Homo sapiens: one gene and its partners. The protein of the gene in region 4 interacts with the protein of the main gene of each other region in a pairwise test. Each region holds a gene or a part of one and is shown on either strand. Other genes may lie near its edges.

The links.
Region 1: the proteins of USP20 (region 4) and VAPA interact in binary tests that used the Homo sapiens proteins (3 or more experiments, as listed by UniProt).
Region 2: the proteins of USP20 (region 4) and VAX1 interact in binary tests that used the Homo sapiens proteins (3 or more experiments, as listed by UniProt).
Region 3: the proteins of USP20 (region 4) and C1QTNF2 interact in binary tests that used the Homo sapiens proteins (3 or more experiments, as listed by UniProt).

The regions. Positions count from the first base shown.
Region 1 is NC_000018.10:9,930,999-9,938,022, reverse strand, and holds part of VAPA (vesicle-associated membrane protein-associated protein A), read right to left. Parts: intron 6,214-7,024; coding exon 6,061-6,213; intron 1,914-6,060; coding exon 1,810-1,913; intron 1,038-1,809; coding exon 957-1,037; intron 1-956. UniProt on the Homo sapiens protein: Endoplasmic reticulum (ER)-anchored protein that mediates the formation of contact sites between the ER and endosomes via interaction with FFAT motif-containing proteins such as STARD3 or WDR44.
Region 2 is NC_000010.11:117,135,266-117,142,162, forward strand, and holds the start of VAX1 (ventral anterior homeobox 1), read right to left. Parts: upstream 3,006-6,897; 5' UTR 2,792-3,005; coding exon 2,551-2,791; intron 1,395-2,550; coding exon 1,207-1,394; intron 1-1,206. UniProt on the Homo sapiens protein: Transcription factor that may function in dorsoventral specification of the forebrain. Required for axon guidance and major tract formation in the developing forebrain.
Region 3 is NC_000005.10:160,353,621-160,360,644, reverse strand, and holds part of C1QTNF2 (complement C1q tumor necrosis factor-related protein 2 isoform 1 precursor), read left to right. Parts: intron 1-5,301; exon of another isoform or gene 5,302-5,373; coding exon of another isoform or gene 5,374-5,418; intron 5,419-5,624; coding exon of another isoform or gene 5,625-5,633; coding exon 5,634-5,877; intron 5,878-7,024. UniProt on the Homo sapiens protein: Involved in the regulation of lipid metabolism in adipose tissue and liver.
Region 4 is NC_000009.12:129,873,456-129,880,479, reverse strand, and holds part of USP20 (ubiquitin carboxyl-terminal hydrolase 20), read right to left. Parts: intron 6,999-7,024; coding exon 6,965-6,998; intron 6,782-6,964; coding exon 6,736-6,781; intron 5,905-6,735; coding exon 5,724-5,904; intron 5,652-5,723; coding exon 5,525-5,651; intron 5,171-5,524; coding exon 5,001-5,170; intron 4,921-5,000; coding exon 4,839-4,920; intron 4,351-4,838; coding exon 4,242-4,350; intron 2,143-4,241; coding exon 2,040-2,142; intron 908-2,039; coding exon 836-907; intron 368-835; coding exon 207-367; 3' UTR 191-206; exon of another isoform or gene 14-190; 3' UTR 1-13.

The DNA of each region.
Region 1 (7,024 bases), on a different chromosome or scaffold from region 4:
TGCTTTTGGCAAATACCTCAAAAATCACTTAAAAGAGGCATTTTAAAAATTCAAAATATAATTTGGTCAACACCTAATTACCAGAGACCTTTTCATTTCTGCTTATCCTGAAAGAGGAACACAATAACTGAGCCCACATATTTAATCTGCATGTTTACTTTTCAATAGAGCAAATGGCCACTAGATTAAGGCAGTAGTCATGTCAGATTGTAACCAAATTGTGCCACACCATTCTATTTATCCATATTATTGTATGTATTAAGTCACATACACACACAGAAAAATTTATCTTTCAAGTCTCTCTCACCATAGGAAAAGATTCAAATTTGCAATCCAGACAGGGAAATGGACAAGGTAAGTGACTACAACCCACTCGGTACATTCACAGACTATTTTTTGTTTGTTTTTGAATAAACAAATACATCCCTCAGTCCCCCAAATTGTATTAGACTTACACTAATGAGTAAGCAACATAATAATTATTTACTAAAGAATACAATCAGATGGATTTGACTAAAAACAAAAGTGAGCAAAATACCTAGGAATAACTAAACCTGGAATAAACTGTCCATGTAAGTGAATTTATCCCCAAACTGCCGGTACATAGTGGCCAAAAAGCAATTTATATGTATTTTTAAATTATGTATACACATCTCATTCTAAAAAAGAACCTGCAGTGGTTTACGTCACAAAAAATCTGGTAGACTTAAATGATTCTTCTCCAGGATGCAGTCTTGACCTAAAAGTGAGTCTTTCTTTCTTCTTGGATAAACAAAATGTTACTTTAAAAAAAAAAAAAAAAAAGGCATACCAAGTTTTTTAAAACTTAACCACTGAGTCTTATGAAGTGTAATAGCCATATCACACATACCTCAAAGGTCAAAAATAAAAGCAAAATTAATCAAAGGAACTGAGAGCTCAACAGCTCCCAATTTTTTTTACATTCTCCTACTTACCAATTTATCATTTTCATTGGGCATTTCAAATACGCATCTCAATTTGGAATCCATTAATTCATCAGGTTTTGCCTCTTTCCACTAAAAATAAACAAAACCAAACATGAGACATAGGAGGTATGATCATGGTAAGTAAGTTTCACCTCACGGGACAGCTAAAAGATGAGTGAAGCTGCCTGGCTTGGCTGAAACACACTGGTGCACTCTTTATTGATCACCCTGCCATTGTTATCGGCTAATGTCACAGAACCTTTATATAATCCTAGTTACTATCACCATCCATTAAAATCACGATGATATTACTAGCAACCATAGGACTTTCTTCTTAGCATTTCTTTCTTTTTTTCCAGTTGGTCTCATTCTGTTTCCCAGGCTGGAGTGCAGTCGCCCCTCCTGGGCTCAAGCAATCAATCCTCCCATGCCTCCTGGGTAGCTGGGACTACAGGCGTCCAACACTATACCCAGCTCATTTTTGTTGTGGTGGTTTTTTTTGTTTTTTGTTTGTTTGTTTGTTTGTTTTTGTAGAGACAGGGTCTTGTCATGTCGCCTGAGCTGGTCTCGAACTCCTGGGCTTGAGATACTCCCATCTTGGCCTCCCAAAGGGCTGGGATTACAGGTGTGAGCCACTGCACCAGGCCAGTAGCAGCATTTCTAAATTGTTTCTAAAAAAAAATACTATTTAAAAATTCTTTCATTCTTTAAGTTAGGATTATCTATAATGAAGAAATTGGCAGTTTTTTAAAAACCTAAATTTAACTTTTAGTTTTTAGAAATTAAGTTTTTCTACTGACTGCTAAACAACACCCACAGTTTAAACTCCACTTCCCAAAACAAATTCTTCTTCTATACTTACCACAGCTTCCATATCTGAAGTGTTTGGTGGAGCAAAAATTGTCTGTACCATAAACTTGTGTTTACTCTTTTCATTCGGATCATAGTCAAAGGGCTGTAGCATTACTAAATAAGAAAAAAAGGATATATTATATTGTCTCCTGCATGTCTGAAAGACATACATTGAAACAGTTACAGATTAAATTATACTAAGTCTGGGATTTGCCTTAAACCGTATCTGGCAATAGTATCATTCCTACTACTTCACAAATATGCAAATTTAAAAAAAACCAAGAAGGGTTCAAGAAACCAAACACTGGAATGTTTAAGAATCAACTTAATGGATCCCAAGTATTTTTAAATTGTCTGTCTTTCTAATTTACTAAGTTTTGCACAACCAACAAAATAAACAATTACAATTAAAAATTAAATATGAATCTATGATTTTGCCCTTTCTAAACTCAGCTTGTGAAAATTTTCAAAACTTTGCCAACGTTAACTATAATGCCTATAAGCTCAGATTAAATATAAGTTATTAAAACTATGAATTTAGGCTTCATTTTAGTGTTTTCTGATTTAAAATTATACAACTGAGATATTTAAAGGAGAAATACTCAGTAACTTAAAACCTCACTACCATCTGTTTTTTGTTTTTTAAAACAGGGTCTCACTCTGTGGCTGAGGCTGCGCTGCAGTGCAGTGGCGCAATCTCAGCTCACTGTAGCCTCAACCTCCCTAGGCTCAGGCAATCCTCCCACTTCAGGCTCCTAAATAGCTAAGACTATAGCCACATGCCACCATGCCCAGCTAATTTTTGTATTTTTTTGTAGAGAAAGGGTTTTCGTCATTTTGCCCAGGCTGGTATAGAATTCCTGGGCTCAAGAGATCCGCCCTCCTCAGCCTCCCGAAGTGCTAGGATTACAGGCGTAAGCCACAGCACCCAGCCCATATATTGTTTTAATATAATTAATTTTTCAAAATTGTATTTTAAATAAACATCTATTTCAGAGTTTATGAATTTATTTAAATCTTCTAAGAAAACAAAAGTACACAAGGAAACCATATAGCCTCTTGAGTTCTAAAATTTATTCTACAGTCTCAATAACATTCAAAATTTTTAAGTTTTTTTTTTTTTTTTTTTGAGACGGAGTCTTGCTCTGTCGCCCAGGCTGGAGTGCAGCGGTACAATCTCGGCTCACTGCAAGCTCTGCCTCCCAGGTTCACGCCATTCTCCTGCCTCAGCCTCCCGAGTAGCTGGGACTACAGGCGCCTGCCACCATGCCCGGCTAATTTTTTTGTATTTTTAGTAGAGACGGGGTTTCACCGTGTTATCCAGGATGGTCTCGATCTCCTGACCTCAAGATCCGCCCGTCTCAGCCTCCCAAAGTGCTGGGATTACAGGCGTGAGCAATTTTTAAGCATTTATAATTTCTCGTCTTTTAAGTTTTCTAAGGTTCCATGTGGTTGTAAGTCATGCTAAATTTATGTAACATGAGTCCAATATAACAGACTATACAAAGAATCAATCAACAGTTACACAAAATATGTACATGGCATTATAGAAATTATTTCCCTAACTTTAGATTATTTCTAAGATATATCTCTACACTTTCAAAAAGATAAACACGGGTAAATAAATGTAAGAAATAATTATGTAATAAAGTCTTATTCATAAGGTGTGTCTGAGAAGTCCATTAACTGCTATCAAGGTTAAGACAACTTTTTCAAGGGGCCAAATACACAGCAGCAGGAAATGTACTGGATAAAATGCCTCAGAATACAGCTTAAGCTAAATAAAATTCCATTAGCAACCTTCACTGAGTTAATGATTATAAGCTAATCACTATGAACCAAAAATTTGTGAATAAAACGAAAACTTACAACATGGTTAAGTTTATAGGAGTTATACTCTAATTTAGGTTGCAGACCACATAACAAGACAAAGACGATCTTGAAAACATATATAAAAATGTGCACAAATTGAAGCAAATTCAAAAAACAAAGCGTCAAAAGGACACAGGGAAAAAGAGAAATGAGCATGTAGTACAGAGAATTAACCAGAGAAGGTTGTTGGAAGAAGCATAGCTTTGAGTGACTGTAAATGGAAATACACTACACTAAAAACTGGAAAAGCCAAATTCTAATTAAGTAGAACAATCCAAGGGCATGTTTGCGTAATCAGTAACCAGTTTGTCTGAAGGTTTTAATAAGTCAGGTTTCTGTGGGAGAAAGTGTTTTGATACGTTGTTTTCTCAAGAAATATTAATACACAGAAACCAGCAATCTAGGCCCCTCAAAGAAAAAGTCATTCTGCATAGTTGTATGGATTCCTAGGGATATAACTGTTTGTACCAATAAACTATTTTTAGCCATGTGGATTGAAATAATTATATCTTCTGGCCAGGCGCAGTGGCTCACGCCTGTAATCCCAGCATTTGGGGAGGCTAAGGTAGATGGATCACTTGAGGTCAGGAGTTCGAGACCAGCCTGGCCAACATGGTGAAACCCTGCCTCTACTAAAAATACAAAAATGAGCCAGGCATGTTGGCACACGCCCGTAATCCTAGCTACTCAAGTGGCTGAGGCAGGAAAATCACTTGAATCCAGGAGGCGGAAGTTGCAGTCACCTGAGATCACACCACTGCTCTCCTACCTGGGCAACAAAGCAAGACACTGTCTCAAAAAAGAAAGAATTCTCTCTTCTTCCAATTGTGCTAAAGGCTTAAAGATGTAGTAGAAAGCAGCAACATGCAGAGTGCATGCATTCCTTCATCTTTATTTCCCATCTCTCTTTCCCAGGAACTGATGAATTAGACTTAGCAAAGAAACATGAAAAGCACTCCTCCCAGGCCTCCTTACCGCAAGACTCACTAAAACATCTTTTTCCTAGCTCTTGAGGTTTTTGGCTATACCTGCTGAGGGAAGATTTAGTGTCACCAAGAACTCTATGGTCTGTCCTTCATGGCCTTTGTAGTCAGGCTCCACCTCTAAATACTCTCTCAATGAGCCTACCCTGGGTTCTCTCTCTCTGTACCCAATTCTGCTGTGGACTTGAAAACTGATACAGAATTATTATAATATCTTAGGATTACTTATCAAGATCACCCAGGCTTTTTTTTTTTTTAAGGTACACTTTTTTTGTTTGTTTGTTTTGAGACGGAGTCTTACTCGTGCAGTCTCCGCTCACTGCAACCTCCACTTCCTGGTTTTAAGCAATTCTCTGCCTCAGCCTCCCAAGTAGCTGGGACTACAGGCGCCCACCACCACACCCGACTAATTTTTTGTATTTTTAGTAGAGATGGGGTTTCACCATCTTGGCCAGGCTGGTCTTGAACTCCTGACGTCGTGATCCACCCGCCTCGGCCTCCCAAAGTGCTGGGATTACAGGCATAAGCCACCGCGCCCGGCCTAAATGTAACATTTCTAAGTCATGCTCCTAGAGATTCCAATCTGGGAGAGATGAATCCATGTGTGTTCCTGCTCCCTGTGTTATTACAGCATATAGTGGGAGTTGAGAAGTACTGCTGTAAAGAAAGAGTAAATGCAGCCTGAGAGGTTCTCCCCTAAGTAAAATACATGGAACCATAAAAGTTCTCATATTTACTTCCTATTTCCTATTTCTCAGCTATATTAGTGAAGTCAGAGGGACTGAGAAAGAAAGAAACAGTTTATAGGGGGCATTAGATATGGTACCAGTATCAACTCCACAGCAGGAGTAAGTAATCCATATATGGCAAGCATACTTCTTTGACAAGTAAACACATAAGAGAGTAGTAAAATAAAAATAAAGTTTTCACACACAGGACACTGTTGACATTTACAATGAAAGGCATAAAGACTCATCTGATTTGACACAGTAGGCAAAAAAGTGGCATTGCACCTTTTTAAGCAAAAGAATTATGACACTTCTATAGCTGCATGCAATGTGTAATATGATCATGATCTGAAGGAGAATGACCCATCAGAAAAATGATATAATTTTTCAAAGATAAAATAACAAAGGCAGAGAAGGTAGTGGTTAGCTGTAGAAATAAAGACTAAAGTTTGTAATTGACAATAATTTCTTATAAACTGACCACACTCCCTACACAGAAGATGAGTGAGAAATTTTCTGAAACAGCTTGCAGAGTACTGTAACAAGACATCTTTAAAGGCAAAACCAGAATAATATAAGAATTATTTCCCTCCCTCCAGATGAAACCTTATTAAACAAAAACATAATCATAAAAGGTCAAAATTCAAATGTACATAAATTCAGAACATGATTTGCTACCTGAAACAGTCACAGTTGACCCTGGGTCAATAATTCCACTGTTGGGCCTCACACAGTACCGGCGAGGTGCTGTAGTCTTCACTTTGAAACACACTTTTCTATCCGATGGATTTCGCAATTTAAGATTTGTAGTGACTACATCTGTGAAGGGGCCTGTAAAGTTTAAAAATTAAAGAGAAAACAAAATTTAATTGGATTCTCAACAACGAAGGATTCAAAACTGAAAATATATAACCTCAATTTTAATTAAGTGCTGACATTTGTAGGCATAAATATCCCAAATGGCTACTAACACTGCCTTTCTCGAGGTGGCAGACTTAAAAACAAGTCATATTTTCTTCTTCATTCCCTGTATTTCACAAAATTTCTACCATAAACATGTATGATTTCTATCAAAAAAGTACTATGAAACTTTGGATCTATGAACTTTACAACTGTATTTTTACAGTATGTTGTTAATACGTTGCTGAAAATAACAGAATTTCCCAGTTGTCTGCAAACCAGTGTCAATCTTCAAGTTCATTTTACTAGGCCAACTGCAAAAATCTCTACATCTGAAGACCCTACACCCTATGACATCAGTGCTTTTGCTTCACCTCAATTTTGTTTGTTCATTCATTCAATCCATTCATTCATTCACATATTTGTTAAGTGTTTATTATGCCATATGCTCTAGATACAAAGTTTTTAAGCTTTGGTTCTGCACCCAAACAACATAAAATTACAAAACAAAGAACCCAAAAGGCTGATCCATTTTGCTGAAGAAAAGCCTGAAGAAAAATTATGCAGATTAATTTAGACAACAAAATAAATACCTGTTAATTTGGAGGAAGAACATAAAAACATGTTCCAGTTGGGAACAATAACCACAGTTCTAAGTATTCCAAAAGTAATTTTAAATCGTTCTAAAAACAATTCGTTTAAAGTTATGTATTTTTTAAAAAAGCTAGAAGGCTGGAATCAA
Region 2 (6,897 bases), on a different chromosome or scaffold from region 4:
CACCAGATAGCTGCATTGAAGGGTCTGGTGATACTCTTAGTTTATCTCTCCACTGGTCTGAGTCATGAACTTGGAATCATGGGAGAAAGTCAGGAGGCTGAGGTGGATTGAATATTCCCCACTAACCTCCCCTCTCATTCTTCTGCCCCTCTGCAGGCCTAGCAGTGGCCCAGAAGAGTTTTGCAGCAATAGGCAAAGACTATCCTATCTAGATTTTATAAACTAAGAGGAGTAGTAGCAGAGAGAATAGAAAAAGCTACCATACCAACTCAAACTCAAAAAGAACACCCCTATCTGTTCTGTCAGTCCTCAGCTTTCAGCCCAGATCCCGGACCTAAAATGCTCTCCACCTGCTTCAGGGTTGGGCATGGGGAAAAGGATCAGTCTTCAGAAAGAAGGCTGCCGTAGCTAGGCCAAGCTGGTGACATGCCACTTGGCAAGTTCTTGGGTCCTCTCCTGGGCCCAGAGCCCACATGGCCAGCTCCAAGGGGCATCATATGGATTTAATGTAAAGGGAAAGATCTAAAGCACAATCAGCAGTACTGGCTTCTGGGTCCTAGATCTCCTTCCCATCACACACCTCACACATCACTGGCCCAGAAGACAGGGTCTCCTAGGTGCTCAGGGCTGGGGCCAGCTCAGAATGGGGAAAGCCTTCCTTTAAGGGTCAGGGCAGCCTGATCTGCACAGGCAGATCTCCAGGAGGGCGTACACCTAATTCCTGGGAATCACCCATGGTGCTGGGGCAGGGGGTGTTAGATCTAGCCTCACTCCTGTAGAATGGGCCTGGACGCTGAGTACAGCTGGGTGGGCCCACAAGGGGTGGGGCCTAGAAATCTAGCCAAAATGGGGTACCCCAAACAAGGGCAAAAGTCAGTTCTTTGTAGAGCAGAAGCTCGAAGGAAATGCTCAAAACCGGGGGACAATAAAAATTCCAAAAGGACAGGATTTGGGGCCTTCTGGGCCTAGGCCAAGGTGGATAAAACATGGGCCCTGGAGGATTTGGGGATGGCAGGAATGGTGGGGGGAAAGGATGTATTATCTAGGGGAAGGAATCCTTAGGCCTGTCTTACCCATCCTTCCCATCTCCTCCACCTCCCAAGGGTAGTTCTGTCCAGAGCAGGTTAGGAGGTGAAGAGCAGGCTAGGTAGGGGTGGTGGGGAGGAAGGCTGGTGCAGAACTGTGTGCGGCCTGGTCGCCGGGTACCTGGGTCTCGGAGAGGTTAAGCTGCCGGGCGAGCTCGGTCCTCTCGCGGCCCACCACGTACTGGCAGCGCTGGAACTCCATCTCCAGCCGATAGAGCTGCTCCGCGGTGAAGGACGTGCGCGTCCTCTTAGGCCGGTCCAAGTCCAGGCCCTTGGGCAGGATGATCTCTCGGATGGACCCCTTGGCATCTGGGGAAGGGGAGATGTCAGCCGCCAGAACCCTCCCGTCCCCCTCCACCTCCTTGGCCCGAGCTGGATTTGGGGACACAGTCCCCAGAAGCGTGCAGTTTTGGGGATGGGGGGCGGGGTGCGGAGCGCGACCACAACCAGGTAGCAAAGACACTGTGTGGAGGGCAAGGGGCCTAACTCCATACCGCTGACCGAAGGAGGGACCACACTTTGTCTTTTTGTAGAGTCCTCCAGACAGGGGAGAGAAAAAAATCCAATCAATTCCACATAGGCGGACGTTTCTTCCGGCCTGGGGGGGCCTCGGCTGAGCCTTCCGGGTCCCCTGTAGCCTGAGGGTACCCTTGTCGCCCCGCCCGGGTCCTGCGGGCCCCAGCTCTGGGCTTGCCGACCAGACCGTGATCCAGACGTCCCCACCCCCACCCTCGAGTCTCCTTCCCTCCGGAGTCCGCGCGGCGGAAGGAGGAGGGACTGAGTCGGGGCCGGCCGGGCCCGGAGATCTGCTGCTGGCTGGGGCGGCGCCGGGCCGGGGCCCGGCCTCGCAGCCTCCGCCGCCGGGGCTAAGTGCACGCCGCGCCATCCGAGAGCGGCAGAGCAGAGCACCAAAGCGGCAACCGCGGCTCCGTAACCAAGCCCAGCTGCCTCTCCCGGCGGCAGCGGTCGGGCACCGATCGCGGCCGTGGGGTCCTCGGCCCAGTGCACTAACTGGCAGGGCCGTAGCCCGCGATCGGCAGCTGTTCTCCGGGGCTCGCGTTCCCCCTTGGGTGCGCTCAGCCCTCCAGAGCGCGGGAGTCCCCTGGCCGGCTCCCGGCAGGTCGTCCGGCCCTTGGAGCGCGCACACCTCCTCCCGGAGTTTTCTGCTCCTTTCCCGGGTCGGAGGCCGCAGCCCGATGCCCGGCCGCACCCGCGCAGCCCCTCATCTCCCCCCGCAGCCCGGTCAGCGGGGCCCCTCCGGGCGTGGAGGGCCGAGGCCCCTGGAGAGCGCACCGGAGAGTCCCAGGCGCTTGTCCCCAGCCGGACTCGGGGCGGGGAGGGCCAACAACTTTCTCCCAAGTCCCAGCCGGCACTCCTTCCCACCGGCCTGTGTCGGCGGCAGCGCGCAGCTCCGGCCCCGGAGTCGACCCCAAAGAACGCGCCTGGCAGCCCTGCCCATCCCTACCTCGGACCAGGATCCGGCGGCAGTAATCCGGGTCCGCTGCGGAATTGGATTTACTTTTGTTACAATCCTCAGCAGCGCCCGACGCTGAGAAGGCGCCCTGCGGCTCCTTGAGGAAGGCGGCTGGGAGGTTCCCCTCCGCGCCCTTGCTCTCCCGACTCTCCTTGTGCGCGTTCTTCGAGACCCGGGCAGCCTCGGCGTCCGAGTGGCATCGAACGTCCATTTTGTCTGGTTTCCCGAACATAGGCAAGAACAACAACAAAAACAGAAAGGAAAAAAAAAGCAAAAAAAAAAAAAAGGGGGGGGGGCGGAGAAGGAAAAAAAAAAGAGGAAAAAGGGGACAAAACCCCCGACAACGCGGCCCGTACGCCCGGCCCGGCGACAGGCAAGGGGCAAGAATGAATGTCCCCGCGGGGAGGCTTCGGCGGCCGCGCGCGGGTCAGCGGCGACGGGAGAGTGGCGCGCTCGCCGAGAGGCGGCCAGTCTGGTCCAGGATCCTGGTGGAGCTGCGGCGAGGCCGCCTCGTCAGCACCCGCGTCCTCTGAGCACGTCCAGTGTCCCCAGCCTGGCGATCAGGTAGCGAACAGCGCAACTCCGAAATGCTGCGGCTCCCGCCTGTTTCTGAGACGGCGAGTTGTAGTTGTCCGACACCCGGGGGGACGCACACTCGCTGTTGCAATTGATTACGGGTAATTTCGCAGCCCCCACGTTTCGGTTACCTCATGAATACACTAAATTGTTTGGATAATATATCAGATCGTAATGGATGGTTTCTGTCCTTGTCCCCAATCAAGTAGGGGTTTAGCCAGTGAATAAACGGAAATGATTGGTCTTGCTTTCAGGAAACACACAATCAAAGACCCACACTTCCAGAAAAACTTTTGACAAGATTCATCCTGAATTGTTAGTACCATTAGCAGGCATTATTAACTTTCCTTTTGCCTTTGACCCTCCTGCTCACATACTGGCTAGAGGGGTTTTCTCCACACTCGCCAGATAGAGCTGAATGAGGGTTGGGCGGCGGGGGGGTGTGGGGGGAGAAAAAAAAAACCCTGCGCACCCTGCGGCAGAAGAAAGCAGTTGTCTGGGAGTGGGGGATGGGGGACAGAGCGGGGGGAGAAAGTTTTCCCAAAAAGTATCTCCCTTGCACTCTAAAAAAGCCAAGATTTTCCCCTAAACAACTCCTTCTTAACACACCTCGACGCAGACAGCCATCTTAAACTGCCACCTCTCTTCATTTAGTTCCAGTTGGATTTTTTCATGCCTGCACCTCCAGCAGCCCTGAGGCAGCCCATTCAAAGGGCAGCTTTGTACTCAGAGTCCAGCAGGAGAGAGAGGGGGAGAGGGAGAGACGGCCGAGAAATCTCAACTGTGAGATCTGCTTCAAAAAAAAAAAAAAAAAGTTTTCCCCTAGCTATTTCATTGTCTCTGCTACAATATCTTTGAGAAAAGCAACAGCCAGTAATCCAATAAGAGCATTGATTAGGCTACAATGATTCAATTCAAGCGCATGGCCTTGTGCAAGGAGCATGCTCCAGCCCTTCTCGTCACCTTGCCGGGGCAGAAGCCCTCTCCACGCCGCTCTCCCCATTCATTCCTTTATGGGAAATGCGGAGCAAAAGGAGTGAAAGATGGCAATTATCTAATTGGACTATTAACAAACAGTCCTCTGAGTGCGGCGGTCTGGCGTGGCTCCTGGGCGGGGGAAGGGCCGTGTTCCCTGCCCTCATTCACAAAGAGTGCAGGGGCCGGGGAGGAAAGGGGTTTTTTAAAGGGGGTGGGTGGGGGGAGAGGAGAGGTGGGAGGTTTGGCTGAGAATTTTTCCACACAATTCCAAGAATGGGGCGGAGGCGGGGGGAGGGGAGGGGGTTGGGGAGGGGGTCGCGGCGAGCGGGTGGGAGGAAGGCCGGGAGGGGGAGGGGTGCGAGTGTGTGTGGCGGGCCCCTAGGGGCTCCAGCTCGCAGCGACGCGCGCACCGTCCGCACCTCCCGCCCCGCCGCCACCTCCCCTGCCTCCGCCGCCACCCCGCGGGACCCCTCTACCGTCCCAAGCCAGGAGGGGGCCCCCTGAGCGGGGTCTTTCGCGCTGTCCACCCAGCCACCCCTCCAGCCACTTAGGGGCACCCAGGTTTGGCCCAGCTCCGGAGGGCATCTCTGGCCCTGCAGGCCGACATCAGGCTTCCACTTTAGTTGACTGGGCGGAGCGGTGGAACTGTCCCGAGCTACTCTCCGCAGGGCGGCGGGTTTCCAGGGTCCCCAGCGGGCTGATCGCCCCTCAGCCCGGCTTCGCTGCGCACGCTGCCCTCGAAGTCCGACGCCGACTGGGCGCCCGGGGAAAGTGCCTTTGATTACGAGCTCTGCTCCGGCGGGTTGGTGAGGCGGGTGGGAGCAGAGACGGGTAAGAGGGGTAAGGGACTTTGCGGCCACCCTGTTCTGAAGATGTAGAGTGGGATTGTGTTAAAATCCGGCGAACTCTCCTGTTACCTCCCGCAACGCTCAAAAGCCCAGACTGGCGCCTTGAGGCACCGAGGGCTTTGCTCCCATGCGGCCAAGCCGTCGGGGGTGCAGCCGCCGGGTCTTGACTCCCACTACCGCGTCGCGGGTGCGGGTCCCTGGGATTCGGGTCCTCCTGATGGGGGTCCCTGCAGCAGATGGGGCATTCACTTCCCTGCAGAGCTCGGCCCGAGGGAGCTCCTGGGCCTCCTTGGGCAGGGAGGGGTGCGACCGAATTCCCTGGCACACCGGCCCTTCCTTGCCCCCTACCCTGGAGGGGTTGGAGGGGTCGGACCCTCGGACTACGCGAGATCGGGTGCGCAGGAGGATTCTAGGCCTTCCTCAGCCCTTTAGGAGCCCTGCAGGCGGCGGAAGTCCCAAACCGCAGCCTTGGCCCAAATGGGACCCAGATGGCTCTGGGTCCCCGGCCCGGCCGCACCCCTCTGTACGGCCTCCTTCTGTCGGTGAAGGCCGCAGCGGCCTGGGAAACCCATGCGGACACCTGCGGCGCCCGGTCAAAGACCTGGAAGAAAGCTTTTTAAAAAATAAAAATGGCCCAACCCATTACATTTTCTTTTAGGTAGATGGGGGAGCTGGGGGGCGGGGCGGGGGCAGTCAGGGAACAAACAGCTGCCCTTAGAAATGACACGCCCTGTGGGCAATGGCGGCGCTGGGACGTCTGCAGCCGCATTCACTGCCACAGAGAACGGCCAAAGTATGGCCAAATCCCAAATGCAAATTTTAAGTTTGGCCTCGGAAATTTCTGCCCTCCCTCATCTTGTGGCATATTTTGTTGTAAGGGGGAACTATTTGTTTGTTTGTTTGTTGTTTGTCTGAGACGGAGTCTCACTCTGTCGCCAGGCTGGAGTGCAATGGCGCGATCTACGCTCACTACAACCTTCGCCTCCCGAGTTCAAGAGATTCTCCTGCCTCAGCCACCTGAGTAGCTGGGACTACAGGCGCGCGCCACCACGCCCAGCTAATTTTTGTGTTTTTATTGGAGACAGGGTTTCACCATGTTGGCCAGGATGGTCTCGATCTCTTGACCTCGTGATCCGCCCGCCTTGGCCTCCCAAAGTGCTGGGATTACAGACATGAGCCACAAAGCCCAGCCTGTTTGTTTGTTTTTTAAACTTACTTATTTTTGAGACAGGTTCTCGCTCTGTCGCCCAGGCTGGAGTGCAGTAGCACCATCACGGCTCACTGTAGCCTCGAATTCCCAGGCTCAAGCGATCCTCCCACCTCAACCTCCTGAGTAGCTGGGAGTACAGACGTGAGCCAACGTGTCCAGGGGAATTATTTATGAAGCAGTCACTTACTGGATGCATAAACTCACTTAATCTGAACTCCTCCTTCAGAGATGTAGTAATATTCCGGTTTTATAGGTGAAAGAATGGAGACTCAGAGAGACGTTCAGTAACTTGCCCAAGTCACACAGACTGGTATGAGCAGAATTTGAATTGACTTCTGCCTGACTTCAAAGCTATTTATGCTCTTCTTTGCCACACCCCACAAGACTGCCCCATTTTTAGTTCCAAACCCATACTTGCTTTGAATTTTCCAAATCTTCAGGTGATCATGTGTGTATCAAAAAGACACAGAGCAATGACTTTAATGTTAATGCGAGGAATCCTTATTATTAGACATCAATTTTCACAAATTTTATCTAAACAACAGTAAGTAGAAATGGAATCATGAAATTCTTGTTTCTGATGATGCTATTTATTTCTGGCCATGAGCATTTATTAGGAGTTTATCACTCATCTACTAGCTGATTGGGGGTGAGTAAAAAATCATTTCCTGGGTTTCAAACTTACAGAATGATCATCTGAGAGCAGTGTCCAGGAATTTGCATTTC
Region 3 (7,024 bases), on a different chromosome or scaffold from region 4:
GTTTTTTTACAGGTGAGAAAGGACTAATACTTACCTCTCTTCTGGTTAATTGGACAGCTCTCTATGGAGCACCTACTCTATCTAAGGCATTCTGCAAGGCTGGCCCCACCCTAGGGGCCAGAGAGGGAACAACCTAGCCCCTATACTGTAAGGGGTCAAAAGCAAGGAGGGATTTGATCTGATTCGGGTTAGAAAAGCAGAGGAAAAAAGAACAGATTTGTATCAAGGGGTGTCAGTGCTCTCTCTTCTGGATTTCAGCCACTGTCTGGTTTTCTCTTCGCTGTGGATTTTCTTGAGGGCAGAGTCTGCGTCTCCAACACTTACTAATTAAGCAAATATTTCTTGAACATTCACTGTGTGTGAGGAAGTTTGAAGCCAGGTGGCCAGCTGGGGTCCTGTACTCATGGAGCTTACATTTTAGTGGAGACACATGGGGGAGGCAACCAAGTAAAGTGAATATGGGTGAGTGGTTTCAAGTGCTGGAAAAGAAACAAAGAGCTGGGAAAAGGGAGCTTGCAGAAAGCGGGCGCTGGCTGAGAGGGCACATCAGGGAATGCCTGGAGGAAGTGACATTTAAACTGAAATACAGCAGATAAAGAGCCAGCAAACCAAGAGGGTGGAGCCGTGAGGTTACTGGTGGAGTGGCTGGTGCCTTGGGGCTGAATGGAGCTTGGCCTAGAAAAGGTAGGGGGGGTGGGTGCTGGGCCAGAGGAGCCGAGGGAGCCAGGGAGGAGCTGAGGCTGGGGCAGGGGCTAGAGCCAGCTCAACTGGGGCATTGTAAGCCATGGCCTGGGTTCTGATGTTTGCTATTTTAAGCCAGCACCTATTGGAGGGTCTTGGGGAGTGACACCCTGATCTTTTGGTTCAGGCCTTGGAAACTCCCCCATTAACACACCAGAGGGGCTTATGGTGGGGACCCAGGGCCCAGGAGGCTGTCCCCTCCACGCCTCTCATCACCTTGTCTAATCCAAGTGTGGGCCTCTCAAAGGACAGGAGGTTTTGCTCAAGCATTGATTTACTCCAGCACCCCAAGAGAGAGAAAAAGCATCACTTGTACGTTTTCAAAGTCATGTACTGTGTGTGTAAAAATTGTAAAATAAAATACAGGGCATCAGAGAGATTTCTCTATGGCTGTGTGTGGTTTTGGCATATGCTTCAAGGTCTTTTCTGTAATGTGGAATATTTAGGGGGAAAAATATAAGAAATGCTGACATAATGGAAAGCATTTGGGTACTAGGATCAGCCAAACCCAAGTTCAAATATAACTTCTGCCACTAACTACTTGTGTAAACATAAGTAAATTAGCCTCTCCAAGTTTCAATGTCTTTTATAAAATGGGGGGAAAATAGCAGGGGCAGGAAGCAAGGTGGCATGGATTAAGCATAGTTTTCAGAGGCACACAGACATGGGTTTGGATGCCATCTCCATTAATCCCTGATTGTGTGACTCTGGGTAAATAACTTCACTTCTTGGAGTATCTGTTTTTTCCTCTGAAAAAAAAAATGGGACAATAAGGGCTCAGGTAAGCTTCATAGGGCTCTAGTAAGCTTTGTATAAAACAATGCAGCAGGCTGGATGCGGTGGCTCACGCCTGTAATCTCAGCACTTTGGGAGGCTGAAACGGGTAGATCGCTGGACTGGAGTTTGAGACCAGCGGATGACATGGCAAGACCCCATCTCTACAAAAAATACAAAAATTAGCTGGGCATGGTGGCACGCTCCTATAGTCCCAGCTTCTCGGGAGGCTGAGGAGGGAGAAACACTTGAGTCCGAGAGGTGGAGGTTGCAGTGAGCCGAGATCACGCCACTGCACTCCAGCCTGGGCGACAAAGTGAGATAAAAAAAGCAATGTAGATACAGGGCTTCACACAGTGCCTGGAACATTGTAGGTGCGTAATAAGGTCAGTTTGCTTCTGCCTTGGTTTCCCCATCTGTAACTGAAGAGGTTGGATTAGATGGTTCCTTGAGGCCCTCCCCAAGTTCTTGATTCTAAATGTATTTAAAAGGTGCTAGCTGAGAGTGGTGGCACACTCCTGTAGGTCCACCTACTTGGGACAGAAGGCTGAGGCAGGAGGATCACTTGAGCCCAAGAGTTCAAGGCTGTAGTAAGCTCTTGCACCACGCACTCCAGCCTGGGCAACAGAGCAAGACCCCCATCCCTAAAAAGAAAAAAAAAAATTAAAGAAAGGCCCTGGAAGAGTTAATCTGCCTGGATTCCTTGGGGCTTTAGTGCCCCTCTAAGCACCCTGCCCCCCAGGCTTTCTCGACACCCTTGTGTAGAGAGTGGGGTGAGGGTGGGGCAGGGCACAAGCTGGGAGCAGGGCTATTTGTAGCCTTGTTTTTCTTGGAGGTGTTGTGGAGGCAAGGAGACTCTCCTCTCCCTCCCTTCCTCTAGGTTTGGAACTAGAATCTAGTCTCCCCGCCTTTATTTCCAAAACAGTTCCTGGCTCTAGCTCCCAAGACTCCTCTGGGACTCCAGGAGCTTCAGGCTCCAGTTCAGAAAACGCTTCCTCCCTGTGTGTCTCAGACACACACCCTTCCACCCAGGCACTGGGGCCTGCCCCAAACCAGCTTTCGCAGACAGGCATTCCCTCTTTGTCCAGAGAAGCTGGTGCAAGGCCATTGTGGGCAAGAGAGCAAATCCGCCTTCCTCTTGTGGAGCCTGTGTGGCTGGGCATGGAGGTCAGAAGAGAGAGGGGAGTTGTCAGCTGTGACAGATGGTTCCCTTTCTCTCCCTCTCTCTCGTCCGGCTGGCTCTCTTTTCTGCCTGTCTCTCTCCCTCTCTCTCGTCCGGCTGGCTCTCTTTTCTGCCAGTCTCTCTCCCTCTCTCTCGTCCGGCTGGCTCTCTTTTCTGCCAGTCTCTCTCCCTCTCTCTCGTCCGGCTGGCTCTCTTTTCTGCCTGTCTTCAGCTAGCTGTTTGCAGGATTCTCATCTGCCTCGAAGACTCGCTTCCACTTACTCCCTCCTTCTCTCCCTACTGCAAAATGGTTGTAGACTGCAACTTTCCAAATCATTTCGAACCTGCTTTAAAAATTCAGTTTCTATTCTGGGGGTCCCAGATGTGCTGCAGCTCACAAATAAGGCCAACCAGTTTTCCAAGACTCTCCTAACGTAGACAGGGAAAGAAATGGTGATTCACAGGGCCTGGGGAGTGTCTAGGCCATAGTTTTCCAAAAGCACCTGTCATTCATGTAACATTTCCATGATGTTTGCCGTACCTGCCTACCATCTCTACTATTATTTATCCAACCTAGGTTGAGCAAGTGTGACATCAGAAATACAATCAAACTGCATCCTTATTTTTGCCTACCCCTCCCTACTTATAATTTAGTCAGTGAGGGGAGCTCCTCCTCCCCCTGGTTGAAGTCTCCACTCCCAGGCAACCCACACCTCAATTTCCATTCGAAGGTGAGATTTCTTCCTGCTCCCCCAGTGAAGGTGTGAAACGGGCAAGGCCATCTGCTCCCCTTGTCAGCTCACCTGTTTCCAAGTTGAAGGGAGGGGAGGTACAGGGACAGGAGGAGGATTTCTAGATGTTTCACGACTGGGGCGGGCCTAGACTGCTCTGTGTCTCTGTGCCTGGCAGACATTTAAAGCTGTCTTTTCCATGGGGGCCTTTTGCAGGCTCTTTGGGAGTAACCATTTTGGGCCCTGTGATTGTCACACTGCTGGGATGTGGGCAATGAACATTTTCCTTTCTCTGCAAGTCTAGGCCTTCCCCTCAGCATCTGTTTCCAGGGTTAAAGATCCTGGAGGGGGCAGGAGGAGAGGTATGGTCAGCCTGTTTCTGAGGGGAACAGCCAGAGGCAGCCGAAAAGCCTGGACAGGCTCCAAGAGCCAGGGGCCAAGCAGAGTCTGAAGGGAAAGGGGATTGAAAGCCCAGAAGGAAAAATGAGTTCCAAAGGTCAATGCCTGAGTAATGCCCCTGCTGTGCAACCAGGACCACAGCTGCCGAGGATCCCCCTAATACTTAAACGCTCTGATTGGATAGCCACAGGCTGAGTGAGGACTACAAAGCCCACAGTGCTTTGTATCTGGAAAGAGAACAGATTGAAGTCTGAAAGGCTCAGCATTGGAGCTAGAAGAGACCCTAGAGACCATCTACTCTAGTGGTTCCCAAAACAAGGTCTCTGGACCACCATCAGCAGCATCCCTTGGAAACTTATTAGAAATGCAAATGGTCCAGCTTCACCCCAGAACTAATGAATCAGAAACTTTGGGGATAAGGCCCAACAACCTGTGTGCTAACAAGCCCTCGAGGTGAGTGTGATGCGCACTGAAGTTTAGGAACCACTGCTCTAGCCCAGCCCCTGTTGTTCAGGTGAGGAAACTGAGGCCCAGAGAGGGAAAAGGGTTTGCCTAAGGTCACAAAGCAAGTTGCCATTTTATAGTTAATCGCCATGGCAGGAAGTCATGCCTGGGATGTTCCCCCTCCTGGTTTCATTCTTGAGAGAGAGGCTGTTAATTACAAAGCAAAGGAACTGATTTGTTGAGAGATCTTGGGCAAGTTGCTTATTTCTGCTCTGGGTCTCAGTTTCTGCGTATGCATAGTGAGGGCAGGGAGTAGATACCTCCAGGTGCATAGCACACTGATCTCCAGTGGGATCGTGCTATTGCTGCCATCAGCCTTAAGGACACGGTCTAGCCTGGGACAGGAGGGCACAGGCTCTGGATCTGGACAGCCTGGTTCAAACCTTAGCCCTGCCATCTACTCATCGCATGATGTAGACCAGGAGTGTCCAATCTTTTGGCTTCCCTGTGCCACATTGGAAGAAGAATTGTCTTGGGCCACACATAAAATACACTAACGATAGGTGATGAGCTTAAAAAAAAATCGCAAGAAATATCTCATGATGTTTTAAGAAAGTTTACAAAACTTGTGTTGGGCTGCATTCAAAGCCATCCTGGGGTGCATGCGGCCCACAGGCCCCGGGTTGGAAAAGCGTGATGTAGACACATTGCTCAACTTCTCTGAGCCTCCGCTTCTTCTCCTGTATCTATTCTATAAGGGTATTGTGAAGATCAAGTAATGAATGGAAAGCTCTTAGCACATGCCTGGCGCACAGGAAGCGCTTGGGGGAGGAGCTGCTACCACGGCCTGCCAGGGTCACTCAGGTGATGGTTGACCTCCACTCAGTAACTGAATCCTCAGCCCTCCTCATGTGCAACCCTGAGTCTCCCATGAGAAGCAGACTAGTTGCAAAGTCACCTACAATTCAAACATTACCCTTGTAGAACTGTAACTTTCTATTCATGCCACAGATTTGGATGAAACCATGGATCATTTCTCTCCATTCACAGCTCCTCCCAGTCATCAGTCTCTGGGTCATAAGTTCTGCATCCATTTCAGCCACTCTGGAAGATGATGGTCTGATGATGAATGCCTCACCCCCGAGACCCCTTCGAAGTGTATTCTGGGTAATGACTCCACTCACCCAAATATGTCCTCAAGATATGACGACTCTGTCCACATCACATCTACTTGTATGTGATGCAGGAAAGAGCAAGAGACAGAAATCCAACTGAGTGTATCCCAGCTGCCTCCTCCTGTGCATCCCCTCTGACCAGCCCCAGGTCAGCTTGGTGGCCACACTCACCTGTCACAGCTCTCTTGCCTCCCACAGGTAACCACCATGATCCCCTGGGTGCTCCTGGCCTGTGCCCTCCCCTGTGCTGCTGACCCACTGCTTGGCGCCTTTGCTCGCAGGGACTTCCGGAAAGGCTCCCCTCAACTGGTCTGCAGCCTGCCTGGCCCCCAGGGCCCACCCGGCCCCCCAGGAGCCCCAGGGCCCTCAGGAATGATGGGACGAATGGGCTTTCCTGGCAAAGACGGCCAAGATGGACACGACGGCGACCGGGGGGACAGCGGAGAGGAAGGTAAGAGGCCTATACGTGCCACTCTCGTTCCCACCTGGCTGACAGCATCCGGCATGTGGGGGGCATCATGAAGTTAATAAAACTAGTATTAATCCTCTTCATTATAAATCAAATTACTATTTACTTATAAATCTATATATATATATATATATATATATATATATATATACTTTTTTTTTTTTTCCCCTTGAGACAGAGGCTTGCTCTGTCGCCCAGGCTGGTGTGCAGTGACATGATCTCAGCTCACTGCAACCTCTGCCTCCTGGGATCAAGCAATTCTCCTGCCTCAGCCTCCTGAGTAGCTGGAATTACAGATGCATGCCACCATTCCTGGCTAATTTTTGTATTTTTTAGTAGAGAGGGGGTTTCACCATGTTGGCCAGGCTGGTCTCAAACTCCTGACCTCAAGTGATCCATCTACCTCGCCCTTCCAAAGTGCTGGGATTACAGGCATGGGCCACTGTGCCCGGCCTCAGAGCAGTTTATTCTGAAAGGAACATGGGTATTGAATTTTGTGTTCCTGCCCCCGGTGCACCTTTGGGTTGCTAAGTGACTTTGGAAAAGTCTCCCAAAATATTACTGAGAACTCTTGATAATTGCAAGTGACAGAAACTCAATTTATAGTCCCAAATGGAATGTATTAGCCCATAAAACTGAGACATCAGGCCAGGCGCGGTGGCTCACACCTGTAATCTCAGCACTTGGGAGGCCGAGGTGGACAGATCACTTGAGGCCAGGAGTTCAAGACTAGCCAGGCCAACATGGCAAAACCCCATCTCTACTAAAAATACAAAAAATTAGCCAGGTCTGGTGGTGTATGCCTGTAATCCCAGCTACTCTGGAGGCTGAGGTAGGAGAATTGCTTGAACCCAGGAGGCAGAGGTTGGAGTGAGTTGAGATCGTGCCACTGCACTCCAGCCTGGGAAACAGAGCAGGACAGTGTCTCAAAAAAAAAAAAAAAAAAAAAAAAAAAAAAAAAGCCTGAGAAGTCCAAGAGCCAAGCTCCAGGAATAGCTGAGTCCAGGAGCTCAAATATCATTGTCACGGCTCTGCTTCTCTCTGTGTTTGTTGTATCCTCACAAAGGCTAGAAGTTCTGAAATAGCACTGCTGGGCTCCGGCCCACATCTTCCTGGCTTCATCCACAGA
Region 4 (7,024 bases):
GGGGCACATGGGGCTGTGGGGACACGGGCACTCAGCAGTGGGGCCGGGCCATGTCCAGGGCCCTCCCACATCCTCCAGGAAGGTGCTTTCAGGGACCTGCTCTTTGGATGTTCAAAAGGACATGTGAGGGTCTCTGGAGAGTGAGGAGAGGACCCAGAGTGCCATGGAGGGACCAGCCGGGGCGACTTACAGACTAGCCCAGCAGATCACACGGCCCGCGTCTCGGCTTCGATCTTCTGCTCCCCGTGCAGGTTCTCTGGGCCCAGCGGCTGCGCCACACTCTGGCGGATGGCAATCTCGGGGCCACCTCCATACAGGCTGTTCAGGTAGGTCCAGGTCTCCTCCGAAATCTGCCCGTAGTCAGCTCCTGCAGGGCACGAGAGGCACCCCTAGGCTCACCTTTGCCTCCTCAAGGAAGCCACCGGCCTGGGCAGTGGGGGCTCCGCAGGGCCAGGCCCCGAAGCGGGAAGACGGCAACCAGGGCTTCTATGCAAAGCTGTCAGATGGAAATCAGGATTTCCCAGAGGAATGTCCATCCCGCTAAGGGCCCCGGATAACACATCTCTGGCTGTGTCCCTTGTTCCTGGGGGTGGGGCTGACATAAACAGCAGGGTGGGCAAGGCCAGCAGCAGGCAGAGGGGTGGGACCTGGAGGACACAAGCAGAGACCAAGCCCCTTGGGCCATCTCTCAGCCGCCTGGGTCTGGACTCAGGTGGACGTCTCAGCCTGACTCTAAGACAGGTGGTAAGGGGGCTCCTGGAAGGACGGGACTGGGCAGCAGCCTGGCAGCCAGGAAGGGCAGAGAGGAGCCTGGCTGACCCCAGGGGGAACTCACCCTGCTTCAGCTGGACATGGCCGCTTCCTTTGACCTGTGCAATCCTGCTGTTGTCAATGGGCCCGGGGGGCTCTGCAACAGACACAGCGGGCTCGGGTTCAGCCCCTGCCATGCCCTCCACCCTCCACAGCAGCAGAGCCATCCCAAGTGGGGCCGCCCCAGGCCTGGGGGTCAGCGTGAAGTCTCTAATGGATGAGGCGCCTGAGCCACCCAATGCTCCTCTGTGGCAGTCTGAGGACCCAGCAGAGGGAATTTCCAGGACACACGAGATGGTCTCAGACTCTGTGCTGGCCGCAGGAGCTGCGGTGGATGGCCCATGCCCTTATCTCTGCTGGCAGCTGCCGCTCACCACGCCCCTTCCCCTCTGCCCAGCTATCTCATTTAGCCTCGGCAACCACAGGACAAGACAGAGGTTTACAGAGACAGAGCCGAGGCCTGGGAAGGTGAAGTAACCACTCAGGTCATAGCTGGTAGAAGGCAAGGCCAGCGTCCAGGCCAGGGCGAGGGCTCCGGAGCTACATTCTCAACCACAGCCATGCTGAAGGCCTCAGCCACCACCAGAGAGGCCTCACGGTGGCCCTGGCACCTTCCCCGACTAGCGGGATGGCAATGAGGCCTCCCTTCCCAAGCACAGGTGGGTGCTCATGCTCCACACCAAGGGTCCCGTGAGCAGAACCGTGGGCTCTACCCACCCTGCCGGGCCCCGGAGCCACAGGTTAGATTATGCCCCGAGGGCGCCCCAGCCGAAATTTTTAATGCAGGTTTAATAGTTTAGAGCCTGTGGGCTTCCATGGCTTGGTTCTGCTGTTCTTCACTGGGGACTTGGGGGACCCTGGGAGCTTGTGATGGGGCCTGTCTCCACCTCTGTAAATCCAAGGAGTCAGATGACAAATCTGTCATTTCGGGCGACACACTCCCCTGAGGAAAGGGCCTTGCAGGAGGGCAGAGCAGCTTGCTGGGCATGGCAGGGAGTGGAGAAGGGCAGGGGGCGCAGAGCAGGAGCAGCTTCCTGCCTCTGGGTGGGGACAGTGATCCCCACTGGGGACTGGCAAAGCCCCATGCTCTCTGTTCACCCTGGATGGGTGGCACCTGGGGGCAGGCATGGGGCCTGCAGGAGCCCCTGTGTGCCAGCCCTCCCCTGCCAGCATCCCATCTCCCAGGAGGCCCCCAGGGCAGGTAAGTGCCAGGTCCCCCCTCAGCTCACCGTTGTCCTTCCCCTTGACGAACGCCTCCCACTCCCGGAACCACTGCATGCTGATGCAGTAGATGACGCCCGGCGACTCCTCGGCCTGGAAGGCCTTGTTCAACTGGCAGGCGGGCAGGGACGGGAGGAGACAGAGGGCAGGTCAGTCTCTATTTACCTTCAGCAAGGATTTCCCAAATGCCCCCGCCCCAGTCCCTCACCCAAGAGTCTTACAAAAACACCAGATACTCAAGGTGAAAAATCAAACCCCCAGACAAGCTCAAACAAAATGAACACACCCATCACTCAGAGAGGACGGTGGTAACATTTTGTGGGTCTCTTCAATAACTGTTTGACCCAACTGAGACCACAAGGGAGATTCTACTTTTTGAGAAGGAATCTCACTCTGTCACCCAGGCTGGAGTGCAGTGGCGCGATCTCGGCTTACTGCAACCTCTGCCTCCCAGGTTCAAGCGATTCTCCCACCTCAGCCTCTTGAGTAGCTGGGATTACAGGTGTGTGCCACCACCTGGCTACTTTTTGTGTTTTTAGTAGAGACGGGGTTTCGCCATGTTGGCCAGGCTGGTCTTGAACTCCTGACCTCAGGTGATCCGCCCACCTCGACCTCTCAAAAGTGCTGGGATAACAGGCATGAACCACTGCGCCCGGCCTGGGAGATGCTAATTTTCTCCGGTTGAATAGAATGTGCCTATCTGCTCAGAGAGGCAGCTCTCCTTCTGACAGGAGCATTTTCTTTTTCGAGATGGGGGGTGGTCTCACTCTGTGCCCAGGCGGGAGTGCAGCGGCGCAATCATGGCTCACTGCAGCCTTGACCTCCTGGGCTCAAGTGATCCTCCCACCTCAGCCTCCTGAGTAGGTTGGACCACAGGTGCATACCACTAGGCCCAGCCCTGACAGTCTCTTTTTCGTTTGTGTTCTGAGACAGGGTCTCACTCTATTGCCCAGGCTGCGGTGCAGTGGCATGATCACGGCTCACTGCAGCCTCAACCTCCCAGGCTTAGGTGATCCTCCCAACTCACTCAGCCCTCCAGGTAGCGGGGACTACAGGTACACATCACCATGCCTGGCTAATTTTTGTATTGTTTGTAGAGATGGGGTTTCGCCATGTTGGCCAAGTTGGTCTTGAACTCCTGGGCTCAAGTGATCCACCTGCCTCGGCCTCCCAAAGTGCTGGGATCACAGGCGTGAGCCACCATGCCCAGGCAGCAGAATCATTTCCTAATGGCCACAAAGCACGGGCGTCCCTCAGTGTCTCTCACCAGGCCCTCCCTGTGAGTGGAACACGTCCTAACCCTGTTAGAAGTAGCGTGGCAGGGAGGGAGTGCGCCAGGAGCCTCGCCTGCACTCAGCTCCCTCACAGAAGTCCCTCTTCTAAACACAGTCACACTTGAGTCCTGGTTTGCACCTTGGTTTTCACTTCCTGCTTTATCTTGGGCAGTCTGTAGAGCCCAGTGGTTCTCACCCAGGGCAGGGAGGGTACTCTGCACCCCAGGGGACCCTGGGCAATCTCTGGAGGTCATTTTGGTTGTCACTAGCACTAGTGGGTAGAGGCCAAGAATGCTGCTAAACATCCTACAATGCACAGGACGGCCCCACAATAAAGAATAATTCAGCCCAAAATAACACAGCCAAGGCTGAGAATGGGATCCATCTACTGGTTCTTTAAGCTCAACAGCACCCGGGCGATGAGGCTTCACTTACTCAAGCCAACCCTCCCACCAGGAAAAGCCCTCCTAGACACCTGGCCATCTAGTTCCCCGCAGAAGACTCCTTTCTTTTCTTTTTCTTTTTTTTTTTTTTTTGAGATGGAGTCTTACTCGGTTGCCCAGGCTGGAGCGCAGTGGCACAATCTCAGCTCACTGAAACCTCCGCCTCCCAGGTTCAAGCGATTATCCTGCCTCAGCCTCCCAAGTAGCTGGGATTACAGGCACCTGCCACCAAGCCCAGCTAATTTTTGTATTTTTAGTAGAGACGGGGTTTTGCCATGTTGGCCAGGCTGGTTTCAAACTCCTGACCTCAAGTGATCTGTTCGTCTCAGCCTCCCAAAGTGCTGGGATTACAGGTGTGAGCCACCATGCCCAGCCTCAAAAGACTGCTTTCAAACTTGCTCAGGGACTGCACAGGATTCTTCTGTCCCCAAGTCCCCAGCTGCCCCAGGCAGAGGCTGGCAGAGCCGCCCCCGCGCCGCCTCGCCGCACGCACCTTGATGAAGGTGTCGATCTCGATCCTCCTGCGCTTGGCCAGTGCCTCGATCTCCACCTGGCAGATGGAGCACACGTACAGGTGGTTCACGGCGGGGCCACCCCCGAATCTGTGCCCAGGGTGGGAGAGAGAGACACGGCCTGAGCGGGGTACCAGGGAGGGGAGAGTGATCACTGCCTTCCACTTCCCCCTCAAGCCATCAGTGCCCCCTCAGCGCTGTCGCAGGCCTGCATGCACCTCTGTGTGAGCACCACAGAGCCTGCAACGGAGCAGCGCGCCCACAGCCCAAGGGAGGTCCTGCTTCAAGGCTGAAGAGCAGATGGCCAACACACTCAGCTGTGCTTCAGCAGATGGCCAACACACTCAGCTGTGCTTCAGCCAGTTTCCTGTCCCTTGCCGCTGGAAGGATCCAAGCGGATTCCCACAAACGACATGTGTCATTCTCCATGAGACAAGTGAAGGCGGCTCTGTGCTGCCCACGTGGAGGCCAGAGTGTGGTGTGGGGTCCTGGTGGCATTCCTTCCCTGCCCTCCCCTCTTTTCCTGCCCAGCTGGGCCCTGGACAGGACGGAGACAAGTTGGCCTCCCAGGCTCTCACCTGTTGTACAGGTGCTCCCAGACGTTCTGGGGCAGGATGACCACCAGGTCGTCGATGTAGTGGTATTTGTGGGGCGGGATGCCTGGGAAGAAGGTACAGGGAGCGAAGCTGTGGCTCGGCCCAGCTGCCCACCCTGCTCTCCCACCACAGGGGGCGCCTCACCTCCGTGGGAGCAGAGGAAGGTCTGGTTGGTGATGGGGCCTGGCTCCGCGAAGGTGTTGAACTTGTTGAGCCACTCGCGGGACACGTAGAACCGCAGCAGGCTGGGCTCCCGCATGGCGGCCAGGGACACCACCTGCTGTCGCTCCCGCATGGCCTCCTCGCTGCTCTTCCTGTGGGGTGAGGAGGGGGCGAGAAGCTGTGCCTGACGGCTGCCACCTTCAGACACATGCAGAGCCCCCATCCCAGTGCACCTCGGGCTACCGGCCCTGTCCACCACCTCCTGGGTCCTTCACGGGTCCTGGACATGTGAGCAGCCCCCTGTGCCGCCAGCCAGGGCCCTGGAGAAGGCTCCAAGCTGCCTTCCTGGGTTCCCCACAGCAGCCAGAGGGCTGTTTCTTAACAATCCAAGTCCTTACTTCCCTGGCTTAATCCAGGCGCTGTCCCCTACACACACCCAGAAGGCCCATGGGTCCCAGGGGACGGGGATGGTGAGGTTCCTCCACCAGGCCTGGCCCAGCGCCCACCTGTAGAAGAGTACGTAGCCCTCGGCGTTCTGCACCACCGTCTCGTGGACTTCTGTGACGTACTGGTCATCAAACTCGTACCACTGCCCATTGATCACGTTCTGGCAGTAGGCGATGTAGTGCCCACCTGCGGCGGCAGAGCAGACGGGTCACAGGGATCCTAGCGGATGGGGACGGCAGGGGAGGGGACATGACTCACTGCCTGCCGTGCCGTGGTGGCAGATGACCGAGAGGAGGTCGTAGGTGGTGATCTGGGATGTGCACTCCTTGGCAAGGAAGGGGCGCAGGTCGAGCCCCTCGAGGGGGAAGGAGACGTGGCTGTTGATCTTGAATGAGTACATCACCTCGTGCCGAAAGCGCTTTAGGTGAATGCACAGGATCTGCGGGGACAGAGAGAGCGCCGGTCATCTAGGAAGAAATGATGCGGGCCCTCGCAGCCTTGCCCACGGGCCCAGGACAGCTGATGGGATCATGCAAGCTGACTCCATTGGAACAAATCCAAGAGTTCCACGTGGGGGCCAGACTGGGCTCGCTCTAAGTCACACAGATCACTCCCAGCTCCACTGCTGAGAACTGGACCCCAAGAGCTGCAATGAGCCATCAAGTTTACCAGTTCTGTCGGCACTACCTTTGAGAAGCCACAAAGCCTCCCCGAGCCACCACAGCCCCAACCTGGGCCCCCTCTGCCAGGGCCCTCTCCTCTTTGCTCCAGCCACACGTGCCTTCCTTGGTGCGGACAAGCCTGCTCCTGCACTGGGGTTTTGTCTGTTCCTTCTGTGCCTTCCATCCACGACGCTGACACCAGCCTACACCCTCCAGGCCCCACTCAGACGTTACTCCTCAGAAAGACCCCTGGCAACAGCCCCAGCTGGACCAGCTCTCCTCCCGCCACTCTGCAGCTGGCAGGAGCCATAGCTGTCTCACTGGGGGTGGTAACCCAGTGTCCCACACACCTGCCTCCCATTGGGCCCTCATACAACATGTTAGACAACATGTGCTGAGGCTACCGAGAGAGGGCACCAAGTCACAGTTGGAAAAATGTGCCCCCTGCCAACCCTTCCCAGAGGTTTCTCAGCCAAAGCTATGGAGTCTCCACGGCCCCTGCAGCACAGAAGTGCCCGAGCAGTGGAGCAGGCTCAGCCCCTGCCTGGTGTGTGCTGGTGTGCATCCCGAGATAGCTGAGGAGGAGGCTGCCGAGGCCACTGGCTCACCTCGGGCAACCGCAGGACTTTGCAGTACTTCACTCCGTTCCGCAGCCTGGGGAGGAAGCACGAGCCAGCATCAGTGTCCGGCATCAGGGCCAGGGGCCAGGGAAGCAGCCCTCCACCCGGCTCCCTTCTGGGAAGGCAGGATTATAGGGGGCTCTCTGCAGGAACCCAAGGGGAATATGTAGGGCACAGAAACGGCAGTTAGGGAGAAGGCGGGGGAAGGCTCACTTACTTCTTACACCGCTCACAGCTGTACATGTTGTCACCTAGGGCAGTAAAACAAAGGGTCAGA